2 separate regions of the Homo sapiens genome follow, and region 2 is linked to region 1. Evidence: fine-mapped expression QTL. A gene starts in region 1. The other region holds a variant in brackets. All regions are shown on one strand. Distances are between the middles of the regions.

Region 1 (15,414 bases):
GGCCTCATGCCTCTGATTCTATCCCAGCATGAAGGTTAATCCCCACATCCCTACTATAACGGTTGGGAACTCATCCTTGCCTTTCTTCCTCTTGGGAACAAGATTCCCGGGCACAGTGACTCACACCTGTAATCCCAGCACTTTGGGAGGCCGAGGTGGGTGGATCACCTGAAGTCAGGAGTTCAAGAGCAGCCTGGCCAACATGGCGAACTCCCGTCTCTACTAAAAATACAAAATTAGCTGGCCGTGGTGGTGCATGCCTGTAATCACAGCTACTCAGGAGGCTGAGGCAGGAGAATCAATTGAACCCATGAGGTGGAAGATGCAGTGAGCCAAGATTGTGCCACTGCACTCCAGCCAGGGCAACAAGAGTGAAACTCCATCTCAAAAAACAAAACAACAACAACAAAAAGATTCCCACAGCGTGAAATGTTCTCTGCCTGAATCCATTTTGTCTGCAGTGCCATTTTGTCTGGGATGTTTATGTATCTTTTTAAACTGAAATTTTGTTCCAGCTTCTTTTTTATGCAATCTTGTCAGGTTTCAGTATCAGAGTTATACTCATGTTCTGTAAAATGAGTCTGAAAACATTTCCAATACAAGGATGACCTGAGACAGTCAGCCTGTTATTACATGAGTCAAGAAACACCCCATGGGCTTCAGTCCCATACCCAGGCCCTGTTCTCAAACAGGAGAGCAGGCCAAAGTTCTCCTCTTGGGGCAGAGGACAGGGAGTAAGAGGAACAACACATCTTACCATGTTACATTTCAACCCCACTTACGGGGTTATGCTCCATATTACCTTTTAGAGCACGGGGATTATTCGGTATTTAAAAGTAGGAAAAAACTTGTCTAATAAAGTTAACTGCATCTGCACATATTTTGGAGAAATTACTTAACTTCTTTAACAATTTTTTAAATGGTTATTGCTTATTTAGGCTATTTTTCAATTCTAATTTACATTTCCTGAAACAGTCATCTGTTCCAATGAGATTTCCCAGTATATCACAATTATCTATATATCTCCCTCCAAAGCTGTTTTATATCCTTCCTGTGCTTGCAGCTAGCACTCTTATTTTATGCTTTCTGCTTTTTATGCCTCATTCACAATTCTTTTATCTTTTTCTTTTTGAGACAGGGTCTCACTCTGTTGCCCAGGCTGGAGTACAGTGGTACAACCAAAACTCACTGCAGCCTTGACCTCCCAGGCTCAGGTGAGCCTCCTGCCTCAGCCTCCCTGGTACCTGGGACTGCAGGAGTGCACTACCATGCCTGGCTAATTTTTGTATTTTTTGTAGAGCGGGGTTTTGCCATGTTGCCCAGGCTGGTCTTGAAGTCCTGGGCTCAAGGGATCCACCCTGCCTCAGCCTCCCAAAGTGCTGGGATTACAGGTGTAAGCCACAGCGCCCAGCCTGACCTGTCTTTTTCTATATGGACTACATTTATTCTCCATCCTCACCTTTTGTTTGGAATTTATTCAGCTATTCAGCTTGGTTTAATTTATACTATCAGTTATATTTCCTGTTTGACACTCAAAACTAAATAGCTCTATTTTTCAATAGCAAAATTTCAAAGTGTCTGTTGACTCTAAGTAAGATGAGGATTTTTAGCATGCTTTTACTTTCCTCAACCACTTCCAATTCCCAGGCATAACGACAGTTTATTACGTATCTTCACACTTTAGAACTATTTGGACATTTGTTTGCTTTATAGCTATAGCTCTGTGATTCCTTTGACTTACCAGTTAACTGATATTTAATTGAACATTCCTTTTATAACTTCCCTCATTGTTTTTATTGTCTCTTTTTTTTTTTGAGATGTAGCCTCGCTCTTGTTACCCAGGCTGAAGTGCAATGACGTGATCTCGGCTCACTGCAACCTCCACCTCCCAGGTTCAAGTGATTCTCCTGCCTCGGCCTCCTGAGTAGCTGGGGTTACAGATACCCACCAACATGCCTGGCTAATTTTTGTATTTTTAGTACAGACAGGGTTTCACCATGCCAGCCAGGCTGGTATTGAACTCCTGACCTCAGGTGATCTGCCCCTCAGCCTCCCAAAGTTTTGGGATTACAGGTGTGAACCACCACATCCGGCCTTTATTGTCTAATATTTTACCTTTATGAAAGGAATGTTTTGGCCAGCTGGAATAGACCTTGACAGTGTAGATCATGTGTGTGGTCTCTAGGGAAGGTGCTATTTCTTACATTCCAGGATCCAGTGCCCTACTACTTGAGCATATGTACTGCTTGCATTATTTATTACATTGTTAGGAGTTGCAATCACTGGAATGCTTGAAAAAACATCATGGTCTTTGGCAGGGCACAGCTGTGGTCACTTCACAAAGCAGTTTCCTAAAGAGTGCTGTGGCCTGTCCACTTTCTAGTTGGCAAAGATCCCAAGTTCTTAGGTATTGATTGATTCATAGGGAGCAGGGATAGAAATCTACCTTCTTTCTGCTCCTTTAAAACAAGTCTTTTATATGCCATGCCCTTTGTACTGTGTCTGACACATGGCTGTCACTCAATGCTTATTAAACGAATGAGTACATTAATATGTCAATTCTGCCTCAAACAAATCCAACATGTATCCATGACTCTACAGTCCATCATTCCTGCTCTAGCTAAGGTCATTATAGTCCAAACTTTCTTTCAATTTTTATCCACACTACAGATTTTTGTGGTTTCCTTAAGAGACCTGATCATAAGCCACACTTTCTTAAAAATCACCAATGGCTCTCTAATGCCAAACTCTTTAGAGAACTTTGACTTTTTTTTCTAGCTCCATCTTGTTTTATAAACTGTCCACTTGAGCCTGGTCCCTGAACAGGTCCTCATAGTCACAGTTCTGGTACTTTTCCAATCCCATTCCTCCATGTACTTTTGAGTACCCTTTCTCACACATCTTGTGAAATTTCACACCCCAAACCCTCAAACAACACTTCCTCTCTGACTTCCTGGCCCCATAACAAGTACTCCTTTACTCTGTCCCCATAGTATTTTCAACATATCCTAGAGAATTTAGTACATTTAATTGCACTTCAGTTGTTTACTTCCACTTTAGACTTAAGAATTCCTTAGAGCAAACATTCATCTTTTCACACCAAACTATTATAATGCTTGGTACTTAATAGTATCAAGTACTACATGACCTTAATAGATGCTCAAAAAGCTTAAATTCCATTTCTAACACTAGACATATACCACTCTACACTAAACTGGAAGCAAATCACAGCCTTTCTACTAGAAAATGTATTCTGACTTAGTAAAGCAATCTCTCCCCAGAGAACCACCCCCATACACTTAATTTTGCATTCATTTCAGGGTGTTCATGAATGCCAATAACCAAATTCCACCCCAACAAACACTGTGGCTGTAAATTGAGATTCTCTTCTCAACAAATACGACATTTGGCATGGTAGAAAGAGATCAGACTGTGGCTAGAAACATCAAGTTTTAATACCAGCTCCTACACTTAGCATGAGTTAATATTTAAGCTCCAGGACTCAAATTCCAAATTTTTAAATGTGGTGAATACATACCGACTTTGCTAGTTTTGCTTTATTGAAAACTGATAAAGTATCTAGCGCAATGTAGCCATAGAAGTGTATTTTTAACTACAACTTGTGTCATGGAATTGGCATGGAATATTCTGTCACCATCTCATGAAAGTAAGGTAATGCAGTTGTCACTTGCCACTTGCAAATGAAACATGAAAATAGTATTTATTGTTCAAATACTTATAATATGGGGGCTTTCTGTATTGAATTTTTAAAATCTTTTACATAATCCTTTTTCAATTCATTCAAATTAGTATTTTACCTTAAGTGTCCTGGTTTTATCTTATAGTAGTAAGATTGTTGGCTTTCTTTTCACAAAGGTCTACCAATGGGTTCATGGCACTCAAATAACCATAATTCACTTTCTCATTTCTTCTGTATTATGTACTTTTTGTAAAAACACCTATCAGACTGCACCTGACATACAGCAAATAAGTTTTTCATTAATGGTTAACCTTAGAATCTAAAATTGATTACCAACGACTACCTCCCAGCCTAAACCATATAAAGCAATACAATGAAAAACAGGCTTGAATTTTCTCCAGATATTTAATGCAAGATGCAATGTAGCCATATTCCATGAAATGTGGTTAGCAGTAGGGGAGTTGTAGCCCTATCGAATCAAAGTATTACAATACAGCTGAAAGCTTTATATAGACGTATTTCGGTTCTTAATTGCACTAATGCAGACAGTTTGATAGATAAGCTTCTCTCTTGTGCTTTTTCTACTTTGGGAGGTTATATACTTTAGATGAGAGACAAAGAAACTCTACTGGTTTAAGAGTTCTCAGTTTTACTTTTACTATAGACCTTTTTTCCCACCAGTTTAGATGGGAAGACCCAGCCTTTGGTATAAATAACTTACTTCCACAAAAATATTTAAAGGGTATCTTTAGTGTTCACTGTCAGTTGTGTAGTCTTTTGGTAAGGGGGTGGCTAGAGCCTCTTTACTCTCAGTAAGTGCTCTGGGCTGATGGATAAACACACTAAATTTAACACCCTGGTTGTTTGCAGCTCTGACAAAACCACTATTAGCAGTCATTGTGATGGCTTTTAGGGTGTCTCCCGTCCCAAAAATTGTTAATGAGCGGCTATTAATTTTTGAACTGGCCACTAGTCTCAAGGCACGCTCAGAAGGCTGGTCTGGTACCACATTAATTCGCTTAATTAACACAGTGGCCCTCTCTCTCTCCCCAGGTCCTCCTAAGGTATCTAAAATAGACTGAAAGTCCTTGACAGCAGATTCACAAGCAAACAACTCCTTGTCCTTCATAAAGGCCTCCAGCTGAGGTAGAACCTGCTCTTTCCTCTCTTGCTCTGCTTGTTCTGTGAGCACTTTCTCTTTGAAAATAAAGTGGCAGCCTCCATAGCTGAGGGCAGATACATATGTGATTAAAGTAGTAATGTCCAGATTTACTCTTTTGCACACATCGACCTTAATTTCTGTTGGAAACGCAACACTTGCTAGTATATTTTCTCGGTCAACTCTGGTCACCTGCAAAAGTTCAGGGCCCTCATCATCTGATTCACTCTCACTTGGTTGAAGCTCTTCAGGGTGATCTAACAGAGCGTTGACTGCTACTATGTCTCCTCTCACAGATATGCCCATTTCTTTCAGCTTCTCTGCCATGGGGCTGGAGACACTGTTGTAAAATGCAAAGATGATGTGAGGGTTGCTATACTGCACTGGCTGCTGGTGACTGGCCTGGAGGAAGTCTTCAGCCTGCTCAATGATGCTTTTGTCACCATATTGGCCCCTGCCCAGCCAGATGTTATGAAGAGCTTCAGCCTTCCGGCCAATGGCTTTCACCCAAGTATGACCACCATTTGCAACTACATCTACCACAAGGGTTTGCTTTTCTCCTAAGGTATCTGTATAACCAAAGACATGAAGAACACTAACAACTTCTTCCAGGTTTTCTGCTGATTCCACAATGGCTCTCAGGTGTGTTAGGTTAGTGCTCTGTAAATGAGACTCTTTAATAGCTACTTTCCCAGCTTCTACTTTCTGCAAGAATTTTAATTCTGCCTTCAATTTGCTGCACAGCTTTGCACCACCTTCTATGCCACCTTTTCTTGATCTAGAAAGTGATTCTGCTCTCTTGATCAGTTCCTTGGCTATGGCGATTCGTTCACAGAGCATGGAATGTGCAGACATGCTGTCAGCATTATTCCTTTCCTAGGGAAAGAAACAAGGCAAACTTCAGTAGTCTCCTAAAATTATGACAATCAATTCTTCACTGGTGATTAAAAACTTCAATCTAGCAACACAGCTTATGGAGGGTGAGTCTATGAACCCGGGCTTGTGTATGTCTCATTCTGGAGTGACTGCTTCCTCTGATAGCTAAGGAAAGGATGGCAGCTACACTTTTGAACTCTTCTTTAGGTACGTCTGACACACTTTAGACCTTCATTTCTTCAGCTTGAAAGCCATGGGGACACAGCATGGTCCTAGGTTAGGATACAATGCAAGAGTTGGGCAATCTGCTATATAAATAATTCCCTTATGTCTATCAGCGGCCTGTTTAACTGCTGAGAAATTTTAATAAAGGCGACAAAAATGCCGAAAACAAAAATACACACAGACTGGCTAGTTAGCAAACTGTCCAAAGCAAGTGTCTGTCCTAAACTGAGCACTTCAGCCTCCCTAACCTTTTCCTCCTTCCCGAGTTGGTCTCCTTCAACCGGCTGCCTCATGATTTCCCCCGAGGCTTGGGGTACTTACGCCAAAAAAAATCAACACTGCCTCATTTCTGCATTTGACGTCAACCCAGACTATTTTAAAAGACCGAAGAAGACCACCAACTTGCGTCCCACTCCCACTCCGACTCTGAAGGAAAATCCGAAGATGAAACTAAACTCCAAGGCTGCAACCCGCGGCGGCCGTGCAAGCGGCCCCAGCGCAGGTCGCCGGGTGGGCGGGCCAGAGGCCGGCGGGGCCTTCTCGGTGGGCTGCGGGGCCCTCGGCCCTGCCCGGCCACCTGCACAGCCGGGCCCTGCCAGGAGGGGCCGGGGCCGAAAAGCCCCCACCGCCAGCGCCGCGGCTCAGGGACCAGGCGCTGATAGCGCGCGGCCGACCCCCTTCCCGCCGGGCCGGCCCTGCCCAGCCCCCTCTGGCCTCAGAAGAGGCGCCCCGCTCCCAGCCTCCCCGCCTCGCTCCCCGGCTCCTCACCGGCAGCGCCAGAACCGCGAGCGCGAGCACGCAGGCGCGTGCACGCAGAGGCCGGGACCCGCCGGGAAATCTCAACCGGGCAGCCCCCACCCCGCTCGAACGCCGAGGCGGCTCCACCCGCGCGAGCCCCGCCGCCTCGGGCACCTCCTGCATCACGTGGTTCCGGGCCGGGTGACGCCAAACCTGCGATTCCCAAGCGGCAGCGCGGCCTCCCGAGCCGGGTTGACGCTGGCGTGGCGGCCATGTTTATTGAGGGCACCTGGCTTCTCCCGCTTGCGCCGCCGGGTGAGCCTGAAGGCGCGCACCCACCTGGCTCCAGGAAGAGGGACCGAGCTCGCGTGCTGGGCCTCACTCCCACTGGGGGCGTCGGCCACTCGATCGCAACCGGGTCGTAGGCATTTTGGGGGCTCATTTTAACAGAAGAAACGCTGGAGAAGCTTGTCAGAGGTGACAGCTGAGAAGTACTGCCTCTGGGACTTCTGCCTCCAAGCCAAAGCACTTTCCACTGCATTGTCCTGGGCCCTCCAAAGAAAGTGTGCTGTCCTTCTGAAGAGAAGAAATGATTGCATGGCTTCCGAGGGGCTGCCATATTCATATTACTGTAGTAGAGTGTCCAGAGTCACCCAGAAAGATTAGGGCTGTAAGAAAGTAAAGCTAATTTAAAATATTAAAGAGGACTTCCAGTTATAATTAATCCTGTGTATCCTGCTCCTTCTCCAAACTTAACAGTAAAGCAATGCTCCTTCTCCAAATAACAGTAAAGCAATGACAAAGGGAACAAACAAAGGCAAAAAGAACAAGAGAAGAGATGACTGCAGACCGGTTATACCAACACATTTTTGGAGGACAAGAGCAATAACTTATTCAGTCCTTACAGCGTGACAGACATTGTTCTAAGTGTTTTACACATTGTTCACTCCTTTAAACAACCTAAAAGGTAGAGATATTAAGTATGCTTTACAGATAAGTGAGCCATAGGGAGGTTACCTGAACCCAAGCACCCTCTTTGCAGATGGTGTCAGGAGAACTGAGCAAACTGCTTGTAGAAGGGGATATTTAGCCACTGATTCACAAAGCAGAACCCCAGAAAGCTTCAGGTGCCTTGAAGGTAGAAGGGAGGGCAGTAAATTGTTCAGGCAGAAGACTAGTTTAAGATGCTAAAGACAGGGCATCAGAGGGATTCCAGACACAAAGCCTAACAAAGGATGAGAGGTGCCATGATGTTTTCCTACTGAATAGTGCAATGCTAGCAGCCCCCTTCTCTGCCCCTCCCATAATGCAGGCACCCCTCTACCGCTCCCTACCACTATCTCCCCATAACCCTATTTTTCTCTGAAGAAATGAGTAGACAAAAGACCCTAGAGAAATGGCTCGGCAATACCAACATTCAGCATCCCCTAGTGTGAGCCTCACGAACACAGCATTTCCCAACGTTTTTGTTATTTGAAGGAAATGGAAAACAGAACAAAATGGTCTCAAAAAGTATTCTATAACTAGCATCTTCAAATAAAAGATATTTCAGCTATGAAACAAGAGGATTTCTTTTTTTAAGGAGACAGCAGAGCACAGGAAATGGTTCTTCTGTAGTAAAAATCATATCCCAAATTTCAAAACATCAATGAGTTGGAAAAATTTAGAAAGTAGAAATAGATGAAAAATGGAGCAAAAACAAAAGGATCCAGTATCCAATTAACAGGAGTTTAGAAACAAAAACAAAATGAAGAGAAAATTTTTCAAAAACTTAATAGAAAATTTAGCAAACAGAAACGTTTTTCACAGTGCAAGGGCCCACTGAGTGCTCACCACAATGACTATTAAGAAACCCACACAAAGGAACATGGTTGTGAAGTTTCAGAACACAGCAGATAAGAGAAAAACCAAGAGCTGCAGAGGGGAAAACTTACAAAGGACTTGGCATCACATACGCAATAGTATTAGGCTTCCTATCAGCAACACTGGAATTTAGAAGGGAGTAATGCTTTCAAAATGTGGAGATAATTTATTTCTTAGAGTTTTTAAACCCAGCCAATTCAGAGAGAAAGCAAGGAGAATAAAGATAGTTTCAAACAAGCACCTAGCCTGGATTGGAACAGGAAGACAGAGGGTTCTAAGAGAAACTTCTCTGAGGTGTGGGGAAGAGAACTGATACAGAGTGCCTGATATCTGACTGATGAGGAAAATATTAAGCAGAGGGTGTTAAATTTCTGTTGGGGGAATCTGGCAAGGATTGGTGACAGCTACGCAGAAAACAAAGTAACCAAGTGGGCTGGGCGCCGCCATGGCTTATTTGTAATCCCAACACTTTGTGAGTCCAGGGCGGGAGAATCACTTGAGCACAGGAGTTCAAATCCAGCCTGGACAATGTAGTGAGATCCCTGTCTCCACAAAAAGTAAAAAAACTAGCTGGCCATGGTGGCTGACATCTGTATTCACACCTACTGCAATGGCTGGGGTGGGAGGATCGTTTGACCCCACGTCAAGGCTACAGTGAACTGATTTGTGCCACCTCACTCCAGCCTGGGTGACAGAGTGAGACTGTCTCAAAAAAAAAAAAAAAAGAAAAAAAAGCGGTTATCACTGCCAGGAAAGTTGTTCCGGAAATGTAAATTGTAGTACACTTAGTCATAAGAAAAATCTTCAACATGATTTAATTGAGGTAGGGAGAAGGAAGTCAGTGTGATATGAGGATTCTAAATTCTCATCTTGCACAATGGGAAGTCTGGCAGCTCAACTCCGGGAATCCAAGAAAAAGGCATATAATCCTACTATTTTGAAATACGGAGGCAAGTACCTCATGAAACACCTAAAAAAGTCAAAAGTGATGGCTTTCAGGGAGTAGCACTCACATTTTACTTAACTTTTTAAATATGCTCATGCTTAGGAAGTTATCAGATAATTGGCAGCCAGATATTGCTAGTTTCATAAGTTTCTTGAGAACAGGGTGGAGGGAGGAGCTCTAAATTGAAGGAACTGTGTGAAGCAATGTGACTTTCATACAGAACCACCAGGACTGGTTTTCAGGAAATCAGGATTCTAATCCAAGGGAACTCTCAACTCCTATATGTTCTTGGGCAATTCGCTGAACATCAACTTGCTCTTCTTTGCAATGGGGGGCTCAGAGAGCTTGCCTACATGGGTGAGTAGACTCCTGAAAAAAAGGTGAGGTAAGTACTAAGAGTTGGCAGTTTCATTCTATGAAGAAAACTGAGCAATAGATGAAAACCCTTCAATGTTCACTTATCACCTACTTGATGCCTGAGAGACTGTGCAAGGTAATTATCTCAAGGTTGGGTTTTTTTTTTTTTCCTTCAGGGATGCTTGAGTGTTATCAGCACTTGATAATTATAAGGCTCTGTATTAGTATTCTTTATTGCCTGTGTATGTGAATTTTAAGCATCTCCATGTTTCACTGCTATTAATTGCTTTGCAAATTTAAATTCATGGTTCAGTAGAACTGGGAGGAAGTAGAACAAATGGAGTTAAAATGTTTTAAGGGTTAGAAGATACAAAATGAACCAAAAGGCAGAGGCTCTGAACATTAGAAACATTATGATACTTAAGCTAAAATCCACAGGCTGGAAATGGTTCAAGAGTTTTGGAATGTTTAGGAATGCAGTGGGTTGCTACATCAAAGAACTCTAAGAACTGGGACAAAAAGGAACAACTTAATTTTAAGGCCCGTGGAAAGAATAAACAGAACAAAGGGAGAAGTGTTGTAGGCAGCTTGAACTGGAACTGGGCTTTGCATTTAATGGGGGCAGGAGGTGGAAAACAGAACCTGGATCAAATCTGGTTCAGCTGATTTTTCCTCCCTTTATTCTTTAGGCCTAATTTTGTTAGCACACAATAAAAACCTACATGAGTTTTCCTTACCTCTGAAATATTAACATGCCTTTAATTTTCCCTTCTTTGATTTGTAGAATTTTGACATTGCTTTGCTCTTTTGATACTGGACATTATAGAAGGACTAAACAAAATCAACGGCAGTTAACAGAGTAACTATTAACCACACCAGGCTTTAACTTGTGTTATCAAATTTAGTCCTTAGGAAACCCTGAGATATGGCCGGGCAGAGCGGCTCATGCCTATAATCTCAGCACTTTGGGAGGCCAAGGCGGGTGAACCGCTTGAGCTGAGGAGTTGGAGACCAGTCTGGGCAACATGGTGAAACCCCGTCTCTACTAAAAATACAAAAATAAACCAAACATGGTGGTACGCGCCTGTAGTCCCAGCCACTCGGGAGGCTGAGGTAAAAGGATTGATCACCTGAGCCTGGGAGGATGAGGTTGCAGTGAGCCAAGATCACGCCACTGCACTCCCCCTGGGTGACAGAGAGATTGTCTCAAAAAACAAACCAACCAACCAACCCTGAGATAATTACCTCACATAGTCACTCAGCCAGTAAGTGAGATAGCTGAGACTTGACTTCAAAGACCTTTTTGCTACTATGTCCGCTTTCTAGTGTGCCAAAGTCAAAATATATCAAGAGCCCATAAGAGAGATTATTAGACAAGGCCAAGATAAACATCTTGAAACAGGAAGCCAAAGTTACCATCTTTCATCTCCTTAATGCTTTTGCCACCTAAAACAAGATATGGGTGTTATAGTGATGGTAGGGAACAGAACTGGGGACCCTGAGAAAAATCTCCAAAATAAGGTTCTTTTGCCCTTAACTAAATCTTAGAATCTTCTGAGCTCCATTTAAATCATGGAATTGCCCACTATACTTTCACGTTGGTAAGAATGATTATGCTTATAAACTCTCCTTATGTTCTGTAAACCAAATTAATGATTTTATCCTAAGTTGCCTTAAAAAAAATTTAAAAAAAAAAACCTAAGCACTGCCTTCATATGAGTGCAGATACTTAATTATAACTTTCATTATAGTGAAGCTATTTATTATACTGAGATTACATTAATGAATTAACAAGAGCCTTAAGCCATAGTTTTGACACTTAAGTATTAGCATTTTATTTCAAGCACTTATGCTCATCCTTGAGTTTAAAAAGTCTAACAAAATCTAAGAACCCGGGTTCCTTTAAACATGTTTACCTACTTGTGGAGACACCAACAGGAACCAGCAAACCATTGTTTATTTATTTACATAATGTATCTCCCATGGAGACCTATTTGGCTTACCACTCTTCATAGGCCTAGTACAATCTCATAGAGCACCCTAGGATTTCACTGATCAATACCTAATGGCACCTAAAAGTACCTATGCTTCTTTTCTTGTTCCATGAATCCGTGAAAGTCTGCAGATCCTCCCAGCTCTAGAAGCAGTCATGTTTTTTACCAAAATCAGCATTTTGCTTTATGGAAACACAGGCAACATCTGATAGCGAAGAGGGCATTAAGATTTGACTTAACCAAAATTGCCTGACAACGAAAAAGTCATTTCATCATTCTGCTTGGCAATGTAGTCTTCAGAAATCAACTGTGATAAAAAGCAGGAAATAACTGTTAAAATTTTAGCAACTCCTAAAAGGCTGGAAGGTGGGTTTAACAGTTTATTAGGATTTATAAGTGTCATTTTAAAAACAGTCGATTTAAACCATGTAGAAATAAGTATGCAAAAAGTCTGCAAAACAAAACATACTTTAAACATGTTTAAGTAGATAGATTATCTGAAATTCTGGATTTTTCAGTCACTTCATTGTTATGCTATGGCAGCCAAGTAATCCTTAACTTCAGTTGGAGTAAGCCTCCTAAATCCAGCTTCATTGCAGATTCCAACTTCTATGTTATCCTCTGTCATTTGCCCTTCAAAGCTTTCCTATTGAGGAGGGAGGAAAAAAGGTCAATTTTCTAAGCAGTTAATCATGAAATCATTATAAATCCAGTTGTTGAATACTGAGCTAACCTTTAGGGTTAAGATGGCTGTATGAATGGCATCTTCAAGTTCCAGATCTTCATTATATCTGAAGAATTTAAAAAAAATTACTTATATCATTGTTTATATTCTTTATAACTATTTAAATACAATGACAGCAACAACGTAAGTTTTTAAAACTCTAAACATCTTAAAAATACTAAATTACACATTCTTTTAATCACCTCCTTGTAGCTGTCTCCAGATTAAAAAAACTGACAATATCTGGTGCTCAATTCCCAACATCATGAACGGTATGACCCTAAAATGAGTTTAGTTTAGGAAACTTTTTTTTTTTTTTTTGAGACACAGTTATCTTGGCTTACTGCAAGCTCCACCTCCCGGGCTCATGCCATTCTCCTGCCTCAGCCTCCCAAGTAGCTGGGACTACAGGCGCCCACTACGCCCAGCTAATTTCTTTGTATTTTTAGTAGAGATGGGTTTCACTGTGTCAGCCAGGATGGTCTCGATCTCCTGACCTCGTGATCCGCCTGCCTTGACCTACCAAAGTGCTGGGATTACAGGCACGAGCCAACACACCCAGCCAGGAAACTTCTTAAGTATAAATATTTTAACAATCAGGATGTGGTGGCATTATTATAATTTTTAAAACACAGAAAAATCAGAACTTTGCTAAAATCTTTTTCTTATAAGTTAAAACATAACATGTCACTTCCTGCCGATACCAGTGTGGACGGTGCGAAGAGTGGCTGGGTCGTTTCTTCGGTTCTCCCCATCCCCTACTTTCCTCCCTCCATTGTCAACTGTTGCTCACCCTTCCCAGACTCCCCAGCCCCTCCCTAGCTCCTTCCTAATCTCGGTGCCACCTTTTCCTTTTTCTCTGCTCAGCCCGTGTTAGGGTGAAGCCTGGAGGAACCCCGGGCGCTGTACCAGAGGAGAAAAGACAAGGATGACCCTCAGCCCACCAGCCCAATCACTGGGTTCACCACCTCCATAGCAATGAGACTGATGCTGCTCACCTGTTCTGGCCACATATGGCCCGTGGCTGACTTGGCCTTCAGTGGCATCATGCCTTAGGGGCTTTTTTTTCCCTCAAGACAGAATCTTGCTCTGTCGCCCAGGCTGGAGTGCAGTGGTGCAATCTTGGCTCACTGCAAACTCCGCCTCCCAGGTTCAAGTGATTCTCCTGCCTCAGCCTCCCGAGTAGCTGGGATTACAGGCGCGCGCTATCACTCCTGGCTAATTTTTGTATTTTTAGTAGAGACGGGGTTTCACCATGTTGGCCCAGCTGGTCTCGAACTTCTGACCTCAGGTGATCCGCCTGCCTTGGCCTCCCAAAGTGCTGGGATTACAGGCGTGAGCCACTGCGCCTGGCCAGTCTTATGAGTATTTCTAAATCAGTGCTTGCAAAGACGGCAAACCTATGCTATGCCAGGGAGATACAGGAGACTGGATTGGAACAATTTTGGGTCATAAAGATGCTGTCTGGAATGCAACACTGAATAAGGATGCCACCAAAGCAGCCACAGCAGCTGCAGATTTCACAAAGTGTGGGATGCTATCCCAGGAGATGAACTGATGACCCTGGCTCATAAACACATTATCAAGACTATGGATTTCATGCAGGATAGTAATTATTTGTTAACCAGGGGACAGAATAAACTGTTTTGCATATATGACTTGAACAAACCCGAAGCAGAACCTGAGGAAATTAGTGATCACAGCTCTGATATTAAAAAGGCCCTATGGTACAGTGAGGATAAACAGATTCTTTCTTCTGATGACAAAACTGTTAAGACTTTGGGATCATGCTACTATGACAGAAGTGAAATCTCTAAATTTTATTATGTTGGCTAGTAGTATGGAATATATTTCTGAGGGAGAGATTTTGGTAATAACTTATGGCTGATCCAGTGCTTTTGACAGTACAGTAAGTTTGGAACCAATTAAATCCTTTCAAGCTCCTGCAAACATTAACTCTGAATCTCTTCACCTTGAGAAAGAATTTCTTGTTGCAGGTGGTGAAGATGTTAAACTTATAAGTATGATGATAATAGTGGAGAAGAATTAGAATCCTACAAAGGACACTCTGGTCCTATTCACTGTGTGAGATTTGATCCTGATGGAGAACTCTATGCCAGTGGTTCTGAAGATGGAACACTGAGACTGGCAAACTGTGGTAGGAAAAACATATGGCCTTTGGAAATGTGTGCTTCCTGAAGAAGATACTGGTGAGCTGGCAAAGCCAAAGATTGGTTTTCCAAAGACAAGAGAAGAGCTAGAAGAAATTGCTTCAGAGAATTCAGATTCCATCTATTCTTCAACTCCTCAAGTTAAGGCCTGAACATCAAGCATGTGCCACAGACAGCATACAACTGGACTAGAACGAGCAAGCAGAGAAAAGCATCAGCCTTCCAGAGTTACTCTCTGCTTAAGGCAAAAACAGCAATAAATAATGAGGAATATGAATTAGCTCCATTGCTGAAACAACTAACATGGTGTTACCCATAAGTGAAATCTCAAGAGTATCAGATGAAGGGAGGTTGAGTTATCCTCTTGTAGTACAATGGCCTGTCATCTTTTTAATGAATATGTACAAGATAACATCCAACTTCTCTTATTACAATTAAGAGTTCTTGCAGCTGTTTATGTCATTATGGAGAAGAAAAATATATTGGCTTATTTGTCTGACTTTTCCCTTAAAGCAGAATGTCTTTGTTGCTATTGTTTTTTGCTTTGGTTGTAAAGAGGGAATACATGATAAAGTAACTGGTTTAATTTCTTTCATTGTACACTGGTTCTGAACATCTAATTATTTTTAGTTGTCTAAATAAAATGCCTCTGAAACAAAAA
Region 2 (15,414 bases), 19 kb before region 1:
AAAAACTGACATAATTAAGAACTTGAGAAAAAGACAAATCTTAGAAACAAAAACTGCATTACTAGGTAGCCAAGGGAGAACAGGAAGACAAAAAATACAGTAAGAGACATAACAGATAGAAATAATAAAAACCAAGAAAATGGAAGCAGAAAGAACAGGATACAAGCACAATCGAACACAAGTATCATTAGAGAACCTGAAGAAGAAAAACCAAATAATAGACTAGGACTAATTGTAAAACTATAATCAAGAAAACTTTCCTGAGGAAAAAAAAAAGTTCTGAATCTACATATGGTAAAGAGACAGCACATGTATGAAAAATAGACCGCAAAAGATATCTTAACAAATTATTGTAATTTATAGAACACTAAAGCCCAGACTTCACCACTACACAATATATCCATGTAACACAACTGCACATGTACTCTCTAAATCTATAAAAATAAAAATAAATGATCAGTAATGATGGCCCAATGGATACCTTCCAGAAGAAATGGAATCAGTCTTCCCCCTTGTGGATAACTAGCAAAAGTACCTTATTTTCCCCACTAAAAGTTACATGTTAGAGTTTTGAGGGAACCACAGGCTATGTGTTTTTTCCTTCTCATCTAAAGGTAATAGGAAGTCATTTTATATAAAATTTGTGAGCCAGACACGGTGGCTCATGCCTGTAATCCCAGCACTTTGGGAGTCCAAGGCAGGCAGATCACTTGAGCCCAGGAATTAGAGACCAGCCTGGGCAACATGGTGAAACCCCTTCTCTACTACAAATACAAAAAATTAGCTGGGTGTGGTGGCACATGCCTGTAGTCCTAGCTACTCAGGAGGCTGAGGTGGGGGTTTCACTTGAGTCTGGGAGTTATAGGCTGCAGTGAGCCCTCCTGGAACCAGCACCAATGAACTACAGCCTGGGCCACGGAGTGAGACCCTGTCTCAAAAAAATATATATATAATAATAAGAAATTAAATTAAATTTGTGATAAAGTACACATATCTCTGTAATAGCTAGCTGGCTTTATGACTGGTATTTTAAAATAGCACAATTTTTTAAAAAGTAAAATGAGTCAAAGAGAACAAAATGGAGGAACATTTACAAGAAAGCAAGGAAAGTGTGAAGTGAGGCTTCTATAACCAAGCAAGATTCCTTCACATATCCAAGCTATGGAGAAACAGTTTTGAACATGCTGGAACTCAGGGGATGCTGACCCATGAGCTTTTTTCAAGAAACCTGACACCTGGGAAAACTGGTGAAACAAGATTAATAGTGAGTGTTTAATATATTTAACTGAAGATCTAAGACTAAACCAAAGGTAAGATAAGAATCAAAGGATGATATAGAAACATGTTCTCTGACAAAGTCAGAAAAAAGCACAACCTAAAAAAAGAAAGAGAGGGAAAAGCATAATTAGCTCAATGATTTACTTACAAAAGTTGGGAAACAAATGACATCATTTCAAGCTACCAAAAAAAAAAAGCAGAAGCTTAAATATATTTAGGTGCACAGAGTGCAAGTAAAGAAAGAGAATATGCATTATTCTAATCATTAAAATTGAATGGCAGAGAAAGGAAGGAAAGAGGAGTTTGCAAAACAAATTATATTCTTCTTGCTTACAGTAGAGACCCAGTCAATATTATCTAAAGGAAAGAAGGAAGAATGGGTATTATAAAAACGTCAGTACTAATACAAAAGTTCAAACATTTCCAATTATCAAAAGCAAAAAACAGAACAGAAAAACTAAGAAAACAGAACACATGGCAAAAGTTTTTTATAACTCTTTTTGAAAAAAATGAAGCATTTTTTAATGCCAGAACTGGGTATAAACATGTGGTGAGAGCTTATAATTTTATGTTGCCTTGGCATCCATCTTAAAATATGTTTTAACTTTCTCATACCAGAAGCAGGGCTCAGTCAGCCTTGACACCGTTTCTAATACTATTCCCCACTGGAATGGCTCCAGTTGGTGGCCAGAGATACTGCTTCATTTCAAGGAACCATTCAGACATTTGCCTGCAAACTTAACGTGACCGCCTCTCAGTCAGGGGGACCTCCTGGAACCAGTGCCTGCTTGCTTTAAATTCAACAATTAAACCTGTTTGGATAACACTCTGAACCCAATAAAGGTATTGGTCTACGGGTCCCTTCTCTCTCTCTCTCTCTCTCTCTCTCTCTCTCTCTCTGCCTGTACTCCTTGGTGTGTGGTGTGTGTGTGTGTGTGTGTGTGTGTGTGTGTGTGTGTGTGCGCGCGCGCGCGCCCGCGCTCCCTCCAGGATCTGTAAGTACCAAAAACGCTTAAACTTTCACACTGCGGTTGTGTCACTGAAGCAGTGCCTGAAATCTAATCCCTGAGTGTGACGCCGCCCCAAAGGGCCCCAAGCAGGTAGATCCCATGCTGATGCTCTTTTATCCTGGCCTCTCAGCTGTTGAGGAGAGTAATTGCCGGGCTAAACTGATAAAGTTTCATTCCAAACAATTAGCCTAGTCTGCAGGATTGCAGTCGCGGCTTGGACACCATCCCGGTGTCTGTCCCCCGCAGAGGGCTTGCTACCTTGCTGTATCAGCTGGCCCAGCAGGTCTGGGGCCGCGCGCTGCTTACAGGCGCTGGATCTCGCTGCTCGTCGCTGCGCGCTACTAGGTCCTGCTGTCGTCCGAGTCGCCTCCGGGACTCTCCGGAATTGTAGCGGCTGTAGCCGGCTCCTTGCCTGCGGCGCGGAGGGCAGGTCCCAGTGGTAGGAGGATGTGTTCCCTTTGCAGAATCAGACCCCCTCCTGGGACTGTGGGGACCCTCTGTCGCCGGCCTCCATTGGAGGATGCGTTGTCCCTGGAGCTGGGTGCGCTGTTGCGTGACCTGGGGCCTGGGTGGTGGGCGGGCCTGTCCATGGCAAAGGGCACGGCTGCGCGCTACTTCCCGAGAACCCGCCAGCAGGCTCTTGGGAAGCAGCGATTTCTCCTTAGTCACAGTCAGAGAGGGTGATGCGACACACTGGGCTTCACTGTGCTCGTGAAGCGGAGCCAGGGTGAAAGGATCATATGGCCTAACCCTAACCCTAATGGGAGTAACTTCACCTGCGTCCCACAGGCCCCGCAAGAGTGACGCTGCCAGGCAGGCGCCGCCCTGTTCGGTTCCTGCTGCTGTCGCTCCTCGCTCCCCACCACCTCCAGAGCTCCGGTGGGTCACCATGGAAAGGGAAGCCGCTGCCTGCAAGGCCAGCAGACACAGAGGTCACCCTCCAATTTTTTCGGGTAACATTCTGTAAGGACAGAACACCAGGAGGCTACTCCTACCACCAGGAGCATGTCAGGTAAACATCCAGAGAGATGAAGGAAGAAAAAATTTTATTTTAGCCACCAAGAAATACAAGCCGTTCTAAAGATTATACTTAAAAGAAAAAAAAAACAAAAAAAGGAAGGAAAAAGGGGACCGATGATCTTGCAATCACGGAAGTTGTAGAGAGCTGGCTGCCTAGAGACACTGTGCCCTTCCCTCCTCCCTCTTTTCCTCTTATCAACCAGAGGCAGAGACTAAGAATGCCTTCAAGCAACTAAAGCCTAAAATAAAAAAGAAAGAAAAGAGGAAGAGGGAGAGGGAGGGAGAGAGAGAGAGAGAGAGAGAGAGAGAGAGAGAGAGAGAGAGACTGTTGCTTTATGCTATTACAAGTCCAAGAAAAAAAAAAAAAGAGATGAACTTTAAACTTTAAATACTTAGCAGCTGCCAGGTCTAGCAAACATGCTAGCCCTAGATCACTTACTGATTTATAAACAAACCCCTAGATACAGAGGGGGAAAAAGGTAATTAAATAAAAGTTATATATAATATTTTAACATAAATATATGTTGATAAATGGTGTATATGATATATTTGCATCTTTTGATATAGTTAGAAGTTCATAATGCATATAGCAATTTATATATCAAAGAATTTACATAACAAAAAGATTAAAAAGGACACGTACTGGCTTTGTGCTTCTACAAGGTCAGTTCTAATTTAACTTTAACAATTTGTTAAAATGCACTAACAAAAATGCATGGACTTAATATTGGGGCTCAAATTATATTTATACCTGGGGAATTCCACTAAACTTAAACACTCTGCCCATGTAATCTTGAGCAGGTAACTGAATATAATATTTTGTAAATGAATATGCCTTGCATATTCATTTGTAGCATGGCCTAAATTTCCCATAGTTATATATCCATTGCTGTAAGATATTCTATATTAGGCAGAGATGCTCTGACACAATAAATAACAAATTAAAATTAAAGTAAGTCTTTGGCACTTACAAATTGACTTAATAAAATGGAACCCCTTGTACCCCCAGTTAATATAGTTAATATGGCCCAAAGTAAGTTGAAATGGATTAAAACCAATTCTAAAAAACCTATTAATAAAGGCGTGATTATTCCCACTTCCCCATTTAACAGCCCTTTCATTAGGGCCCCTATATCCAATACCTAATATTATTAAAATTGCTGATTCCGTTCAATCAACAACTGGTAAATATTTTGCTCTTGTGGATTTGGCTAACGTGCTGTTTCAATAGCGTCTTCACTGCAGTTCGCCTCCTCCTCTAAAAGAACACAGTACACCTTTTCAGACCTCTGCAGCTGTGTCATCACATGCAATCTTTAATTAATCTTAACGACATCCACCTTCTCCAGGAGCACTGGTATGAGAGTACATCCAGGACATTCTCAGCCAAGGAGACTCACTTAATACATACATTGATGACATTCGAGACCAATATTTCTTAGTACTTTTGGGTTTTGGTGGCAACATATTCCTCATTTATAAATTTTACTTCTAAATTAAAGTCTACAGACACTCCTGTAAGTGACTTCTTAAAAAAAAAAAAAGCCTTTACTGTAGAGTCTTCTCAACCTTTTCAAATGCCTCCTGCAATCTCTGGATATTTAGGATAGCTATCAGTTGCCCCAGGATTTCTGATACGAGATATTGCCCCTGTTGGCCTCATGCTATACAGCATTAATACAATAGATGACTGGCCCCCACTTACTGGGCTGTCCCAGAAATAGAGGCTCTCCCAGACCCTGAGCCTGTGACCCTCTATACCCAGCTGCCCATTATGCTTTGGGCCATGGAAACAGACCCCACAAGCTCAACACAGCTACTGAGGCTCCCTAAGACAGATGGGAACAAACCTGGGTCCTCTGGTATATTCTACCCACAGGAGGGTATAGCTTCCCCTGTTCTAAGCCCCTTGCCAGACGCCAGGGTGCTGGAGGATGACATCCCTCCCCTAAACCCCTTGACTACTAGGAAGCCCTGTGGATTAACTGAGTGACCAGTAAAGGGAGTTCATAGACTATGTGAATGGCACTGCCAGCCCCTGTGCATGGTGGAGCCTAGTGGAATGTGCTGCTTTCCATTCCTTAGCCAGGATGTCCCTAATAAAGGATGGGGCCCAAATACAACGCACGTGGCCAAAACTCCAGGTGGTCATCTTAGCACTGGATACCCTGGTCAACAACTGGTCCTGTCTTCATGTTTATTATAAACTATTAGGCCATTACTGAAAAATTGGCCCCTCAAGGATAAAAAAAAAAAAAAGAAAAAGAAAATCTCTGGGAATCTCTTACTTCGCACTCACCCAAAACATAAATTAGAATCATACTTCTCCACTTAGAGTTGAGGCCACAATGCAAGGCCGTGCTAGCCATGCCTTATTCCCTTCAGAGTCATGGCTGTTACTAACAGTAACCAAGGCACACAATTCACTTCTTAGAACACATCATGCTGGGCTCCTGAGGAACATTCAATAGAACTTTCATGTCCATGACAGGTCCCAAATGACTGGTCTCAATAAGAGACATCATGATGGTTTAAACAACTC[C/G]TTTTCAAACTTCAATACCACAAATAAACTAAAGTTCTCTAGTTTGCCCCTGGCCTTAACCTACTTTTTTTTAACAATTTTTTTATCTTGTCCCCATCCCTTAAGGTCTGTAGGTCAGATCAAGGACATAGACTCTCCTGGGACTCATTAACCATATATTGTCCCACAGGCCTGGCAGCTGCTCATCTTATATGAAACCCATTTGAACCTAAATGTCCACCCAAAACAAAACCCTGTCAGGTGCAGCTGCACACCATTTCTTTGATTGTTGGTCTTATTACTATCAGTTTGGGTGCTTTCATTGGTTTACAACTGGACACCCAAACCCTCCAGTAGTAGATCATTGTTTCAACCAGTTATGACAAATGCTGAGGCCCGCACCAACTCAGGTGCCTACCCATTGAGACATCTCAGTCTCACCTCCTGGAGGACACTGCCCCAACTCAAGACCTCAGCGTTGGAGATGACTTTGCTCCCTGTGCCAGACATGGCTTCACTCTGGACACTAAAATCTCCCCCCAGTGATACTCACAGACTGCCTCTCCAAAAGCAGAAAACGCACATTTATTATTTTTCTTCCTGAACTCACTGTCTACCTGATCCTGCTATACTTCTTACTCTCTGCTACCTCCACACTCCCATACCTAAAGGGAACTCATAATACAGGTTACTAAAATGAATGAAGATTATTGCCTTTCCCAGGAGACACCAGCCCCATGTCAGTCAATCGTGTGGCTCCCTGGGGAGATGACCACCTACTCCCTGAAATCTTTCCTACTAAGCCCCTCCAGTTTTCACCACAATCTCTCACCCTGCATCTCCGAACATCACCACTATGATCCCTCTCTCCCCTTACTCTTGAGAAATCTCCAGCACTCAACCACAACTGCCTTAATTTTGAATAAGATGCTGAGGCACCAAGAGGTGAATTGCAGTGGATTTCATTCAAAATGAAACCTGAAGCCATATATGGACTTAACTGACCAATTAAATATCATGATTTTCAAATTTGATCACATAGCAAAACTCAAACCTGTGCGATAAAACAAGAGACATATTTAAAATATAATAACTCCAAGGACTAGATTGCAGCTCTGGACAGAGCAGCATGCGGAGGCTTGCGCTGTGAATTTTAGCTCCAGATCAACTGCAAGTAAAAACCAGCAATCCCAAGAGGACCCACAGACCCTCTGAAGGAAGTAGGCTGCTCCTGCAGCCGGGGGAGACACCCCAAATACTGTGAGTGCCCCAACTGTGGAAGTGGGAAAGGGTGACCCTCCTCTCCCAAATACATATCCTCACTGGAGAAGCTGAAGATCTGTTTGCAGGAGAAGTTTCTGACTTTACCTGGAGCTGAGTCAGGTTAGAGAGCTGAGCAAAGTGCAGGGGTAGAGGAAGCAGCAGAAAGGCCCTGGGAGCTCTCTGGGTCCCCAGGCAGCCCATTCCTGCCTGGCACCACAGCGATCCATCGGGAGGTTGGCCAGAGGAACAGGGGGGTAAACCTCCACAGGGAGAAGGAATTCTCTACCCGAACTTTGTAACAGTTTGAATGGGGGAGAAGCCTCCTGGCCAGAACTCAGTGGGAGGGCACAAATTGGGCATGTAGAATTCACAGGCCAGGAAGAACTAAAGTCCTTTTCTCTCACAGCTGGGAGGCAGATAGCCTCGGGCAAATTTTCAAGCCAGTCTTGCCTTCACCTGGAAATGGACTCAGGATGTTAGGGGGGTGCATGGACTCAGGATGTTGGGGGGTGCACGGTGGGAGTGAGACTGGCCCTTCAGTTTCCATGGGAGCCGGCAAAGGCCTGCCATTGCTGGCTTTCCCCCACTTCCCTGACAACCTGCATGACTCAGCAGAGGCAGCCATAATCCTCCTAGGTACACAGCTCCACAGCAGCTGCAGCAAGACAGGCCCAAGGAGAGTCTGAGCTCAGACACCCCTAGCCCCACCCCCACCTGATGGTTCTTCCCTACCCACCCTGGTAGCAGAAGACAAAGGGCATATAATCTTGGGAGATCTAGGGCCACACCCACCGCTGGTCCCTCTCCACAATACTACATACAGCTAACGCTTTCTGGAAAGCACCACCTCCTGGCAGAAGGCCAACCAGCACAAAAATAGAGCACTAAACCACCAAAGCTAAGGACCCTCAAGGAGTCAATTGCACTCTTTGCCAACTCCACCAGAACAGGTGCTGGTATCCACGGGTGAGAGACTGATAGATGGTTCTCATCACAGGACTCTGTGCAGACAACCCCCAGTGCCAGTCTGGAGCCAGGCAGACTCACTGGGTGGCTAGACCCAGAAGAGAGACAACAATCACTGCAGTTTCGCTCACAGTAAGCCACATCCATAAGAAAAGGAGGTGAGTACTACATCAAGGGAACACCCCGTGAAACAAAATAATTTGAATAACAGCCTTTAGCCCTAGACCTTCCCTCTGACAGAGGAAACCCAAGTGAGAAGGAACCAGAAAACCACCCAGGTAATATGACAAAACAAGGCTCTTCAATACCCCCAAAAAAATCACCGTAGTTCACCAGCAATGGATCCAGACCAAGAAGAAATCCCTGATTTACCTGAGAAAGAATTCAGGAGGTTAGTTATTAAGCTATTCAGGGAGGGACCAGAGAAAGGTGAAACCCAATGCAAGGAATCCAAAAAATGATACAAAAAGTAGAGGAAGAAATATTCATGGGAATAGGTAGCTTAAAGAAAAAACAATCAAAGACTCAGGAAACTCTGGCCACACTTTTAGAAATGTGAAATGCTCTGGAAAGTCTCAGCAATATAATTGAACAAGTAGAATAAAGAAATACAATATCACAATCCAACAAAGACAAAGAAAAAAGAATAAGAAAATATGAACAAAGCCTCCAAGAAGTCTGGGACTATGTTAAACAACCAAACTTAAGAATAATCGGTGTACCTGAGAAAGAAGAGAATTCTAAAAGCATGGAAAACATATTTGGGGGAAGAATTGAGGAAAACTTCCCCTGCATTGTGAGAGATCTAGACAGCCAAATAAGAGCAAGAACACCTGGGAAATTCATCACAAAAAGATCTTCACCGAGGAACATTGTCATCAGGTTATTCAAAGTTAAGACGAAGGAAAGAATCTTAAGAGCTGTGAGACAGAAGCACCAGGTAACCTATAAAGGAAAACCTACCAGATTAACAGCAGATTTCTCAGAAGAAACCCTACAATCTAGAAGGGATTGGGGGCCTTATCTTCAGCCTCCTCAAACAAAACAATTATCAACCAAGAATTTTGTATCCAGCAAAACTAAAGCATCATATATGAAGGAAAGATACAGTCATTGTCAAACAAACAAATGCTGAGAGAATTTGCCATTACCATGCCACCACTACAAGAACTGCTAAAAGGAGCTCTAAATCTTGAAACAAATCCTGGCAGCACATCCAAACAGAACCTCTTTAAAGCATAAATTACACAGGACCTATAAAACAAAAATACAAGTTAAAAAGTACAAACAACATACAAAAACCAAAGTACACAGGCAAAAAGGGCATGATGAAAGCAACAATACCTCACATTTCAGTACTAACATTGAATGTAAATGGCCTAAATGCTCTACTTAAAAGATACAAAACAGCAGAATGGATAAGAACTCACCAACCATCTGCTGCCTTCAGGAGACTCATCTAACACATAAGGACTCACATAAAGTAAAGGCATGGGGAAAGGCATTTCATGCAAATGGACACCAAAAGTGAACAGGGGTAGCTATTCTTATATCACATAAAACAAACTTTAAAGCAACAGCAGTTAAAAGAGACAAAGAGGGACAACATATAATGGTAAAAGACCTTCTCCATCAGGAAAATATCACAATCCTAAACATATATGCACCTAACGCTGGAGCTCCCAAATTTATAAAACAATTACTAATGGTCTTAAGAAATGAGATAGAAACAAAATAATAGTGGGAGACTTCAATGTTCCACTGACAGCACTGGACAGGTCATGAAGACAGAAAGTCAAAAAACAAACAATGGATTTAAACTATACCTTGGAACAAATGGACTTAACATGTATATACAGAACATTTCATCCAACTACCACAGAATACACATTCTATTCAACAGCACATGCAACTTTCTCCAAGATAGACCATATGATAGGCCATGAAATGAGCCTCAATAAATTAAGAAAATTGAAATTATATCAAGCACTCTCTCAAACCACAGTGGAATAAAACTGGAAATCAACCCCAAAAGGAACCTCCAAACCCATGCAAATACATGGAAATCAAATAACCTGCTCCTGAATAAGCACTGGGTCAAAAACAAAATCAAGATAGAAATGTAAAAATTCTTTGAACTGCACGACAATAATGACACAACCTACCAAAGCCTCTGGGATACAGCAAAGGTGGTGCTCAGAGGCAAGTTAATAGCCCTAAACACCTACACCAAAAAGACTGAAAGAGTACAAACTGACATCCTAAGGTAATACCTCAAGGAACTAGAGAAACAACAACAAACCAAACCCAAACCCGGCAGAAGAAAGGAAAGAACCAAGATCAGACCTCAACTAACTGAAATTCAAACAAACAAACAAACAAATACAAAAGATAAATGAAGCAAAAAGCTGGTTCTTTGAAAAGATAAATAAAACTGACAAACCATTAGCAAGATTAACTAAGAAAAGAAGAGAGAAAATCCAAATAACCTCACTAAGAAATGAAACAGAAGATATTACAACTGAAATACAAAAGATCATTCAAGGCTACTATGAACACCTTTATGCACATAAACTAGAAAATCTAGAAGAGATGGGTAAATTCCCGGAAAAATACCGTAGCTTAAATCAGGAAGAATTAGATACCCTGAACAGACCAATAAGCAGTGAGATTAAAGTGGTAATTTAAAAATTATCAACAAAAAAAAGTCCAGGACCAGACAGATTCACAGCAGAATTCTACCAGATATTCAAAGAAGAATTGGTACCAATCCTTTTGACACTATTCCACAAGATAGAGAAAGAAGAAACATACCCTAATTCATTCTGTGAAGCCAGCATCAGCCTAATACCAAAAACAGGAAAGGACATAACCAAAAAAGAAAACTACAGACCAATATCCTTGATGAACATAGATGCTTAGATGCTAAAATCCTTAACAAAATACTATCTAACTGAATCCACCAATATGTCAAAAAGATAATCTACCATGATCAAGTGGGTTTCATACCAGGGATAAAGGGATGGTTTAACATACACAAGTCAATAAATGTGATACACCACATACAAAGGATTAAAAACAAAAATCACATGATCATCTTAGTAGATGCAGAAAAAGCATTTGCCAAAATCCGACATTCATTTATGATTAAAACTATCAGCAAAATCGGCATACAAGGGACATACTTTAATGTAATAAAAGCCGTCTATGACTAACCCACAACCAACATAATACTGAATGGGGAAATGTTGAAAGCATTCCCTTTGAGAAATAGAACAAGACAAGGATGCCCACTTCACCACTCCTCTTCAACACAGTACTGGAAGTCCTACCCAGAGCAATCAGACAAGATAAAGAAATAAAGGGAATCCAAGCTGATAAAGAGGAAGTCAAATGTCACTGTTTGCTGACGATATGATCACTTCCCTTGAAAACCCTAAGGACTCCTCCAGAAAGCTCCTAGAACTGATAAAAGAATTCAGCAAAGTTTCTGGATACAAGATTAATGTACACAAATCAGTAGCTCTTCCAAACACCAACAGCGACCAAGCAGAGAATCAAATCAAGAACTCAACCGCTTTTACAATAGCTGTAAAAAAAAATAAAATACTTAGGAATATACCTAACCAAGAAGTCAAAAGACCTCTACAAGGAAAACTACAAAACACTGCTGAAAGAAATCATAGATGACACAAACAAATACAAACACATCCCATTGCTCATAGATGGGTAGAATCAATATTGTGAAAATGACCATACTGCCAAAAGCAATCTACAAATTCAATCCAATCTCCATCAGAATACCACTATCCTTTCAAACAGAATTAGAAAAAACAATTCTAAAATTCATATAGAACCGAAAAACAGCCTGCATAGCCAAAGCAAGATTAAGCAAAAAGAACAAATCTGGAGACATCACACTATGGGATTTCAAACTATACTATAAGGCCATAGTCACCAAAACACCAGGGTACTGGTATAAAAATAGGCACATAGGCCAATGGAACAGAATAGAGAACCCAGAAATAAACCCAAATACTTACAGCCAACTGATCTCTGACAAAGCAAAACAGAAATATGAAGTGGGGAAAGGACATCCTTTTCAACAAATGGTGCCGGCATAATCAGGTACCCACATGTATGAGAACGAAACTGGATCCTCATCTCTCACCTTATACAAAAATCAACTCAAGATGGATTAAGGACTTAAACCTAAGACCTGAAACTATAAAATTTCTAGAAAATAACATTGGAAAACCCTTTCTAGACATTGGCTTAGGCAAGGATTTCATGACCAAGAAGCCAAAAGCAAATGCAATAAAAACAAGGATAAATAGCTAGAACCTAATTAAACTAAAGAGCTTTTGCACAGCAAAGGGAACAGTCAGCAGAGTAAACAGACAAGCCACAGAGTGGGAGAAAATCTTCAGAATCTATACATCTGATAAAGAACTAATATCAGGAATCTACAACAAACTCAAACAAATCAGTAAGAAAAAAAACAAAAAATCCCATCAAAAAGTGGGCTAAGAACATGAATAGGACAATTTCCAAAAGAAGATATACAAATGGCCAACAAACACATGAAAAAATGCTCAACATTGCTAATGATCAGGGAAATGCAAATCAAAACCACAATGTATACCACTTTATTCCTGCAAGAATGGGCATAATAAAAAAATTAAAAAACAGTAGATATTGGCATGGATGTGGTGATCAGGGAACACTTCTACACTGCTAGTAGGAATGTAAACTAGTACAGATACTATGGAAAACAGTGTGGAGATTCTTTAAAGAACTAAAAGTAGAACTACCATTTGATCCAGCAATCCCACTACTAGGTATCTACCCAGAGGAAAATAAGTCATTATTCAAAAAAGATACTTGCACATGCACGTGCATGTTTATAGCAGCACAATTCCCAATTGCAAAATCATGGAACCAACCCAAATGCCCATCAATCAACAAGTGGATAAAGAAACTGTGGTATATATATATATATACACACATATATATATATATACACATATATATATATATATACACAATGCAATACTATGCAGCCATAAAAAAGGAATAAATTAACATTTGTAGCAACTTGGATGAGATTAGAGACTATTCTTTTTTTTTTTTTTTTTTTTTGACACAGAGTTTCACTCTTGTTGCCCAGGCTAGAGAGCCATGGTGCAATCTCAGCTCACCACAACCTCTGCCTCCTGGGTTCTAGCCATTCTCCTGCCTCAGCCTCCTAAGTAGCTGGGATTACAGGCATGCACCACCATGTCCAGCTTATTTTGTATTTTTGGTAGAGATGGGGTTTCTCCATGTTGGTCAGCCTGGTCTTGAACTCCCGACCTCAGGTGATCCGCCCACCTCAGCCTCCCAAAGTGCTGGGATTACAAGTGTGGCCACTGCGCCCAGCCTAGAGACTATTATTCTAAGTAATGTAACTCAGGAATGGAAAACCAAACATCGTATATTCTCACTGATATGTGGGAGCTGAGCTATGAGGACGCAAAGGCATTAAGAATGATACAATGGACTTTGGGGACTTGGGAAGAGTGGGAGACGGTGAGGGATAAAAGACTACAAATATGGTGCAGTGTATACATGGGTGATGGGTGCACCAAAATCTCACAAATCACCACTAAAGAACTTACTCATGTAACCAAATACCACCTCTACCCCAATAACTTATGAAAAAATAAAAAATATATATAATAATTCAAGGGCTAAAAAGTAAAAAACATATAAAAAGAATGGAAAAAGGTATACTAGGCAAATTAATATAATATTCACCGGGAGGTCCTGATCTTGATATCAGACAAAATAAAAAGAGTATTAAGGATGACAAAGATAGATACTTTCTAATGATAAAAGCTGTAATTCACAATTAGAAGTTAACACATTTTTTATATACCAAATAAATAAAGAGCAATTTGCACAAAACAGAAACTATTGAATATTCAAGGAGGTGTTACTATACTTTCTCAGTAAGATAGATTAAATGAACCAGAAAATGAGAATATATAAAAGAAATGAACAACATAGGCAGGACGCGGTGGCTCACGCCTGTAATCCCAGCACTTTGGGAGGCTGAGGCAGGCAGATCACCTGAGGTCAGCAGTTCAAGACTAGACTGGCCATCATGGTGAAACGCTGTCTCTACTTAAAATACAAAAATTAGCTGGGAGTGGTGGTCAGCACCTGTAATCCCAGCTACTCGGGAGGCTCAGGCAGGAGAATCACTTGAACCTGGGAGGCAGAGGTTGCAGTGTGCCAAGATCACGCCATTGCAATCCACCCTGGGCGACAAGAGCAAAACTCCATCTCATCTCAGAAAAAAAAAAAAAAAAAAGAAAAGAAAAATAAATGAGCAACATAATCAAAAAGGCAGCCCTAAGAATAAATGAAAAGTTCACAGAAAAAAATAAAAATGCAAATATCCCTTAAACACAGAAAAAGTTTCTCAAGCTCATTCTTAAAAGGGAAAATGCAAATAATTAACTAATTAAATAATGTCATAGTGAGACAATACACTCTACTGATGAAGCTATGGAAAAACAGTCACACTCAGACATTACTGTTGAGAATGCAAACTGTTAAAATTCCCAATCAGAGACATTGGATAATACCTGGCTACCAAGACACCCTTTGACAACAAATTCTTACTAGTGTAGATGCACTTCCACAAGGACAAACAACAACAAAACAAAACCACAAACTATGCACAAGCTATCCTACTGGCTTTATTTGGAAAAGCAAAAGATTGAAAACAATGCAAACATCCATCAGGACGGGGATAGTGGCCTACCCTGTGGCCGACCCACACAGTACTATGCCCCTTTCATAGGCTTTATGAGGACCACTATCAGGAGGAGTAACCTCAGGCTTATATTTTTAAATGAAAACAAAAGAAGACAAATTGCTACCTCTTATGAAGAAAAGGAATGGGAAAAAAAAACTATTTGTATGTATGTGCTTTATGTGAGAAAGAAAAGAAAAAAGGAAAGAGGGAGAAAGGAAGAAAGAGAGGAAGGAAAGAAGGGAGGGAAGGGGAGTGGAGGGGAGACTAAAGAGGTAAAAAGAGAGGGACATATAGAAACAATACATTTGTGATGGCAATTTTTATATAGTTTTTGCTTTTGAGCCACAAATTTTATATCCTTATATTTTAAAGAATAAAATTAAGTCAAAAAAGAAAACTCTAAAATTGAAAATAAACTAGAACAAATGAAGCTCACTATATATCAAATTAGTAACATAGCCTCATAAAATAATACAAATCATATGACTTTAAAACAGTACTTTAACCTTATATCTGGGCTAAAAGGACAGAAGAACTGCAAAGAAATA

Alleles and levels. Alleles are on the strand shown, and positions count from the first base shown. SD is a standard deviation of normalised expression in the study named.
As copies of C replace G in region 2, the expression in testis of the gene that starts at base 6,884 in region 1 goes up (large effect, 0.76 SD a copy in GTEx).

What was found.
Region 2: its variant is fine-mapped to the expression of C7orf25 in testis (GTEx, PIP above 0.99).

What each region holds. Positions count from the first base shown.
Region 1 is chr7:42,905,187-42,920,600 of GRCh38, forward strand. C7orf25 (chromosome 7 open reading frame 25) reads right to left here and starts at 6,884. Exons shown (of 2, transcript NM_001099858.2): 1 at 6,729-6,884; 2 at 4,087-5,735. The coding sequence starts at 5,714. The coding sequence ends at 4,449. PSMA2 (proteasome 20S subunit alpha 2) reads right to left here. Exons shown (of 8, transcript NM_002787.5): 7 at 12,592-12,649; 8 at 11,675-12,504. The coding sequence ends at 12,388. It also overlaps the pseudogene LOC105375252. RefSeq lists enhancers at 5,713-6,410, 6,411-7,107, 8,627-8,686 and a silencer at 6,456-6,715.
Region 2 is chr7:42,885,854-42,901,267 of GRCh38, forward strand. No RefSeq gene overlaps it. Among named protein-coding and RNA genes, the nearest start is that of C7orf25, 19 kb to the right of the region's middle. RefSeq lists enhancers at 2,523-3,066, 2,662-2,711 and a silencer at 2,532-2,581. The variant C/G (reference allele first, on the strand shown) is at 5,851.